2 linked regions of the Homo sapiens genome follow. The protein of the gene in region 1 purifies or fractionates together with the protein of each later gene. This does not show direct contact. Each region holds a gene or a part of one and is shown on either strand. Other genes may lie near its edges.

Evidence for each region. The genes of interacting proteins can lie anywhere in the genome.
Region 2: the proteins of DBF4B (region 1) and CDC7 purify together in Homo sapiens (affinity purification with mass spectrometry; 5 studies listed by BioGRID and IntAct, with this or other methods). This does not show direct contact.

What each region holds. Positions count from the first base shown.
Region 1 is NC_000017.11:44,725,606-44,729,364, reverse strand, and holds part of DBF4B (protein DBF4 homolog B), read right to left. Parts: intron 1-3,759. UniProt on the Homo sapiens protein: Regulatory subunit for CDC7 which activates its kinase activity thereby playing a central role in DNA replication and cell proliferation. Required for progression of S and M phases.
Region 2 is NC_000001.11:91,510,692-91,514,450, reverse strand, and holds part of CDC7 (cell division cycle 7-related protein kinase), read right to left. Parts: intron 2,855-3,759; coding exon 2,761-2,854; intron 2,671-2,760; coding exon 2,528-2,670; intron 1,394-2,527; coding exon 1,144-1,393; intron 504-1,143; coding exon 408-503; intron 1-407. UniProt on the Homo sapiens protein: Kinase involved in initiation of DNA replication. Phosphorylates critical substrates that regulate the G1/S phase transition and initiation of DNA replication, such as MCM proteins and CLASPIN.

The DNA.
Region 1 (3,759 bases):
CTGGGTGTTGTTACATGCACCTATAGTCCTAGCTACTTGGGAGTCTGAGGCAGGAGCATCACTTGAGCCCAGTAGTTCAGTGATGCAGTGAGCTATGACTACACTACTACACTCCAGCTTGGGGAGTGAAATCCTGTCTCTAAAAAAAAAAGAAAAAAAAAGGCTAAAATGGCTTATTTTATGTTATATACACTTTACCACTATTAAAAAAATTAGTTATGAATTGAAGGATTACATTTACCTTTTTTTTTCTTTTCTTTTCTTTTTTTGAGACAAGGTCTCACTTTGTCTCCCAGGCTGTAGTGCAGTGGCATGATCTCGGCTCACTCTAATCTCCACCTCCCGGGTTCAAGCAATTCTCCTGCCTCAGCCTCCCAAGTAGCTGGGACAACAGGTGTGTCCCACCACACTGGCTAATTTTTGTATTTTTAGAAGAGATGGGGTTTCACCATGTTGGCCAGGCTGGTCTGGAACTCCTGACCTCAAGTGATCTGCCCACCTTGGCCTCCCAAAGTGTTGGGATTACAGGTGTGAGCCACCGTGTCTGATCACATCTACCTTTTTTTTGTCACCAGGCTGGAGTGCAGTCATGCGATCTCAGCTCACTGCAACCTCCGCCTCCCAGGTTCAAGCAATTCTCCTACATCAGCCTCCCGAATAGCTGAGACTACAGGCGCATGCCACCACGCCCAGCTAATTTTTGTAATTTTAGTAGAGATGGGGTTTCACCATGTTGGCCAGGATGGTCTCGATCTCTTAACCTTGTGATCTGCCCGCCTTGGACTCCCAAAGTGCTGGGATTACAGGTGTGAGCCACCGTGCCTGGCTGCATCTACCTTTTTTAATACAGCAAAAGCAAATGCTAGAGGGTAGGAGTAGGGCAATCAATGATTATCCTATATAAATATAGGAGATTGTTAATGACCATATATTCCTCCTCCCATCCCAGTATACCCACTCCTTTGCAATATGACTTTGCTCTTCCTGCCATTAGGAGGTGGGACCTACTTTTTTATGCCCTTCAATCTGACTCGATTGGACCAATAGAACATGTGGAAATTATGATGTGTGAGTTCTGGAGCCTAGGCCTCAGAGGCCTTAGCTTCCTGCCTCACTTTCTGGGAAGGTGGCCTTGAGACCACCATGTTAAATCAGCTAGTTTAGCTTATTGCATATAGTTATGATAACTGACACAGAGTGCCAGATGTGTGAGTGAGGCCATCTTGGTCTTTCCAGCCCAGGTGACCGTCCAGCTGAATCCAGCCTCAGGAGTGAGCCCTGCTGAAACCACCAGATAAACCACCCAGCCAACCCACAGCATAATGAGAAATAATAAATTGTTGTTTTGGCCAGGTGTGGTGGCTCATGCCTGTAATCCTAGCACTTTGGGAGGCCAAGGCAGGTGGATCACCTGAGGTCAGGAGTTTGAGACCAGCCTGGCCAACATGGTGAAACTTCGTCTTCACTAAAAGTACAAAAAAAAAAAAAAAAAAAAAAAAATTACCCGGGCATGGTGGCAGGCACCTGTAAACCCAGCTACTCTGGAGGCTGAGGAAGGAGAATCGCTTGCACCTGGGAATTGGAGGTTGCAGTGAGCCAAGATCGCACCATTGCACTCCAGCCTGGGCATCAAGAGCAAAACTTTGTCTAAAAATAAATAAATAAATAGAAAATAAATTGTTGCTTTAAGCCCAAGTAGGGTTGGTGTTTTACATAGCAAAGGCTAAATGACAGAAAGGACTAAAAGTTCAAAATGTAATTATGGGCCAGTTTGGTTATATAATCCTCATTCTATCCATCCTCACCACTGAGTTTCTGCAGTCCTGAGTTTCTGGGTTTGACAGCAAAGAGCCTCTCCATTCCAAGCCCTATTCATCCAGTTTCCCCAGTTATTAGTCTCTTTTGGGTCAAGCACTATCATGCTGTTTTCTTTTTTTTTTCTTTTTGAGACAGAGTCTTGCTCTGTTGCCCGGGCTGGAGTGCAATGGCACAATTTTGGCTCACTAGAACCTCTGCCTCCCGGGTCCAAGCGATTGTTGTGCCTCAGCCTCCCGAGTAGCTGGGACTACAAGTGCGTGCTACCATGCCCTGCTAATTTTTTTATATTTTTAGTAGAGACAAGGTTTCATCATGTTGGCCAGGCTGGTGTAGAACTCCTGACCTCAGGTGATCTGCCCACCTCAGCCTCCCAAAGTGGGATTACAGGCACGAGCCACTGAGCCTAGCCTAAATATATATATGGTTTTTTTTTTTTTTTTTTTTTTTTGAGATGGAGTCTTGCTTTGTTGCCCAGGCTGGAGTGCAGAGGCACGATCTTGGCTCACTGCAACCTCCACCTCCCGGTTTCAAGCAATTCTCCTGCCTCAGCCTCCCGAGTAGCTGGGATTACAGGCGCATACCACCACACGCAGCTAATTGTTGTATTTTCAGTACAGATGGTGTTTCACCATGTTGGCCAGGCTGGCCTTGAACTCTTGGCCTTAAGTGATCCGCCCGCCTCGGCCTCCCAAAGTGCTGGGATTACAAGTGTGAGCCACTGTGCCTAGCCCCTAAAAATATTTTAATGGAATCAAATATAGCAAATGCTTTTTACTCAAAGTTGTTCACCTGTGTTATTTCTAAATGCTAAAAATTATTAAGAGTCTAAATGTCCACAGAGCAACAGTTAAGTAAATTAATAATCCACTCAAAAGAATATTATATTCCCACCGCAAATGATGCATATGAAGGGCAATAATGGTAGAAAAGTGCTAACGCTTTAAGGTTATGGGTAAAAAATTGATAATAAAAATGTACTAACGCCAGCTGGATGCTGTGGCTCATGCCTGTAATCCTAACATTTTGGGAGGCTGAGGTGGGGGGATTGCTTGACGCCAAGAGTAAAAGACCAATCTGACCAACACAGCGAGACCCTGTCTCTAAAATTAAAAAAAAAGTACTCATGATCATAGCTAGAAAAAAAATAAGCATTGCCCTGCCCCTCCCAGCCTTGCCCTCAGCTCCCTCTTGCAGGCAACTGGGTAAGGCAAAAATAAATAAATAAATAAATAAATAAATAAATAAATAAATAAAAAAGGGCCGGGTGCGATGGCTCACACCTGTAATCCCAGCACTTTGGGAGGCTGAGGTGGGTGGTTCACCTGAGGTCAGAAGTTCGAGACCAGCCTAACCAACATGGAGAAACCCCGTCTCCACTAAAAATACAAAATTAGCCAGGCATGGAGGTGCATGCCTGTAATTGCAGCTACTTGGGAGGCTGAGGCAGGAGAATTGCTTGAACCCGGGAGGTGGAGGTTGCAGTGAGCTGAGATCGCACCATTGCACTCCAGCCTGGGCAACAAGAGCAAGACTCCGTCTCAAAAAAAAGAAAGAAAAAGGGCCAGTAGCAGTGCCTCAGGCCTGTAATCCCAGTACTTTGGGAGGCTGAGGTGGGAGGATTACTTGAATCCAGGAGGTCGTGACCAGTCTGGGGCAACATGGCGACACTCTGCCTCCACAAAAAATACAAAAATGAGCAGGGCATGGTGGCGAGCACCTGTAGTCCCAGCTACAGGGAGACTGAGGCGGGAGGATCACCTGAGTCTGGGGAGGTTGAAGCTGTAGTGAGCCATGACCGCGCTCCTGCATTCTAGCCTCTGTGACTGAGTGTGGCCCCCTCTTAAAAAAAAAAAAAAAAAAAAGAAGCACAAAAAAACAAAGGCAGGATGGAGGCAGAAGGTAGATGGGCATTACCAAGGGCTAGGAGTATCAAGGATATAG
Region 2 (3,759 bases), on another chromosome or scaffold:
GTCTAGCTGTCACAAGATATCATAAGTCAATCTGAAATCATCTACATTGATGATGATTTTGTTAACTTTACAAACATCTTTACACTATCAACTATGTGTCAGAATAGTTAGCTAACTGTATGGAGCTCACACTCTAGCAATGACAGAAAGCCCTTAATGTTCTAAATGTTCCTCTAGAGAAAGACAGTAATAGCTAACCAAAAATGAGAAAAAATTCCACCAGAAAAGTTCAGAAAAAAACTGGAGAAAACAAGTTTTGACTAAATGCTTAAAGCAGTAATACCTTCTGCCAAAGCCAAACTCTAGTTTAAAAAAATTTCTGATAATAAATGTTAATCTAGTTATTACCTAAATTCTCTTCAGTGTATGACTGACTGACCATTATGCTATTAAGCTACATTACTTACTTTCACTGCAGGGCTCTCATGTGAAATGGAGCTGTGTATATTGAAATTTCTTTCTCCAAAAACAGAGCGCTGGACAGAAAGGCCTACAGATCCCTCCTACAATACCAACAAAAACAAGGAAAATAAGGATTATATCTGTAACACTTTCTGCCAGCTGTACTCTGCCATAGTTTTGAAAGAGTTAAGTGAGATGAAACAAAAACAGCTGCATCCAAGTCATTCTCAGGCACCAAACCACTTCTGTGAAAGGAGAAAATAGTCTAGACAGAACTCAACACCCATACAATGTTATCATAGTCCACAAATATATATAACTAAAAAAAAATTCAAAAACCACCTGCATGGATGTTACATTTTGCTGTGCAGCTAAAATGGAGATAGACACTTCAGAATTCCTCCCCTATAACTAATGCTTTCTTTTAAAAAGGATAATTAATCTGAACTTTTTAACATGCAGGGAAAATTTAATATTTTCCATTTTTGTCATAAAATATGATTTCATAATAGTTAATGACAGATGTTATAAACTGACAAAGTAAATTTTAGTTTTAAAATAGTAACCAAAATGATTCAGTACAAATCTTAGTGAAAATTTAATCAAATGAATACATATAACAAATGCAAAAAAAAGTTTTTTAAATTATAAGTACTATCCTAGTATTCTATCTCCCTCTGTTGGTTGAAGGAGTATATTTCTAAAACAGTGTCGGTACTTAAGAAATAAAAGAGATAGAACCTTTCCGTCTTTTCCTTGTTTAATCTGAATTTGTGCATTTGTGTAGGGTCTTTTAACAGAAGCTTTTGTGGTGGACTGCTGATCCAGCTCCTTAGGTACTGGGCCACTCAGTGGAATCTTGTTTCCTGTGATTATGTGGGATTTGTTTTGTGAACACCTTTCCTGCTGAGCTTCAGACTGGACAAATTTAAGAAGCTCTATTTTCGTATCATGGGTTCCTTGGGCCAAACCAAAGTCTACCAAGGCATACCTAAGAGACAAAATTAAGCATTTTTACTTATCTGTAGCAATTAAAGCTTAGTAACATTGTAATACTCTCAAACCATCCTCATAAAAACTGTAATTCTTTTTGGGATCAATTAGGAATTTATAACATTCTGGAAAAAAGAAAAAAAAATAAGTTTTCCAGACAAAGTAAGAATTTAACAGCTAACCAGGATTGAAAATTAAGAGTTGTCCCACAATCAAATTTTCTTTTTCCAGTGGTCTGTGTTAATAAGGCAGAAGAGGAATACATAACATAAACACAGTCCGTTGTTCTCTGATGGTGGCAGAGATGGCATCATAGCAGATAATTTCTAGTTAAGAAAGCTTAAAAAAATTAAAATCATGGTTTTAAAATCTGATCCAATTAAAGAAAATTAAAAAGTCAGGCATATAAAAGCTCAAAAAAGAAGTTATAATATTATTATGTTTAATATGATCCATTATATAGAGGTATTTATGTTATTTTTAGCTTATAATTTCTCTATAATTATAATCAGCATTAAAAAGTATACATAAAAATAAAACTTTTGTGTTAAAACAGGAAATTGGCTATCATGTGGTCCAATCCCCTCACTTACTAGAAAAGAAAAATGAAGTCCAGAGATAAGAGACATGTCTAAGGTCAAAAATTATTAGACTCTAAGTCTGTTAGTTCATGCTATTTCCACTGAACCATAGTACATCTAATAATGTACATTATTCCACTAATACAATTTTATCTTCTTCATCACCAAATTTCCCTTTCCAATCACAAAGAAACTGAAACAGAAATAATCTGTGCATGGCTATTGCAGTATGTTATATTATATCTAAGAGATATAAGTCAGAGGATACAAAGTAGCAGATATGTAGGATAAATAAATCTAGACCTAATGCACACTCTGAAGATTACAGGTAATAAAACTGTACTGTATATGAGATTCATACTAAATGAGTAAATTTTAGCTGCTCTTGCCGTAAAAACAAAAATAAGATGGGTAACTGAGATAAATATTTGCTTCACAATAGTAACTTTTGTACTATATATAACATCATGTTCAATACCTTAAATATAGACAATAAAATTGTTTTTTAAAAGAAATAGGATAAATATTTTCTAGTAACTCTTCATACTTACTTTTTCAGGCGCCTATTATATAAAAAATTGCTGGGCTTAACATCACGGTGAACAATACCAAACTGATGAATGCGTTTCAAAGCTTTGAACAGATTAAGCATATATTCCCGTACTTCTTGAAAGGAAAGAGAATTCAGAATGTCCTAAAACAAAGTTACAAATGAAATGAGTTACAAATATTGTTTGCAATTAAATATTTAGCTAATAAAAATTCAAGAAATATTAAAACCTACCAAAAACGACTCATGCTCCAGATATGGCATAGCAATAACTACATGATCATTCTTCCTAAAGCAGTATTTAACTCCCATGACATTATCTTGCCCCCTAGTGGAAAAATGCACAAGGAACTTTTAGAAGAAAGGTCAGAGGGACTGAAACTTTATGCCTAATTTTAAAAACCGCAATTTTAGCAATGCATACATATTGCTAGAAAACTGACTTAAATCATCATCACATAATATAAACACAAGTGACTTGTGTTCTCGTGTTAAAGTTTTCTTTTAAAACAAAAATGGCACCAGTTTTGAAGTTACTATAATAATTCAAACGAGGTAATTATAGTTGTGACTGGGGAAGCAGCAGAATGAGAAAAAAGGGAAAAGATTAATAAGACTTAGCAGATAAGATGGTAACAGTAATAAATAAATCAAGGTCACTAAACTAATAGATCAATGAGCCAGGATTTGAACCCAGGCATTTTGCTCCAGATATATGTTCTTAATCACTATGTTACACTGCTTCATAAAAGAGGAAAATAGGACAAAGGTGATTTCTATGATTTTGAGCCTGAGTAAGAAAACAATAGAGATACCAAAAAATGAGTAGAGAAGCCAGTAAAAGAAGCATCTAAAACCAGACCTCATCATTTTGATAGAGTTATCTAGACAAGGGACTAAGCCTTAAGTGAGAAGACAAGTGAGAAGTCAGTGAGAGTACCTGCAGAGAAGTGATACCTACAGACATGAAAATTAATAGCGAGAAAAGAAAACTGAGCTTGGAAGAAGCCAAGTTAGAGAGCCAAATAAGAAAGGAATTTTGAAGGAAGAGTTATTAGCATGGAAGTCAAAGAGAATAACAACTGAGGGAAGGCTTTTAGTTAGGCAAAGAATAATTAACTGGTAATTTTTAAGACAGCAATTTAAGTGGAAAGGAAGAAACAAAACAGAAGGAAGGAAAATATAACACAATGGAAGCTGAGCCTGAAGACAATTTGCCTGACTGCATTGTAA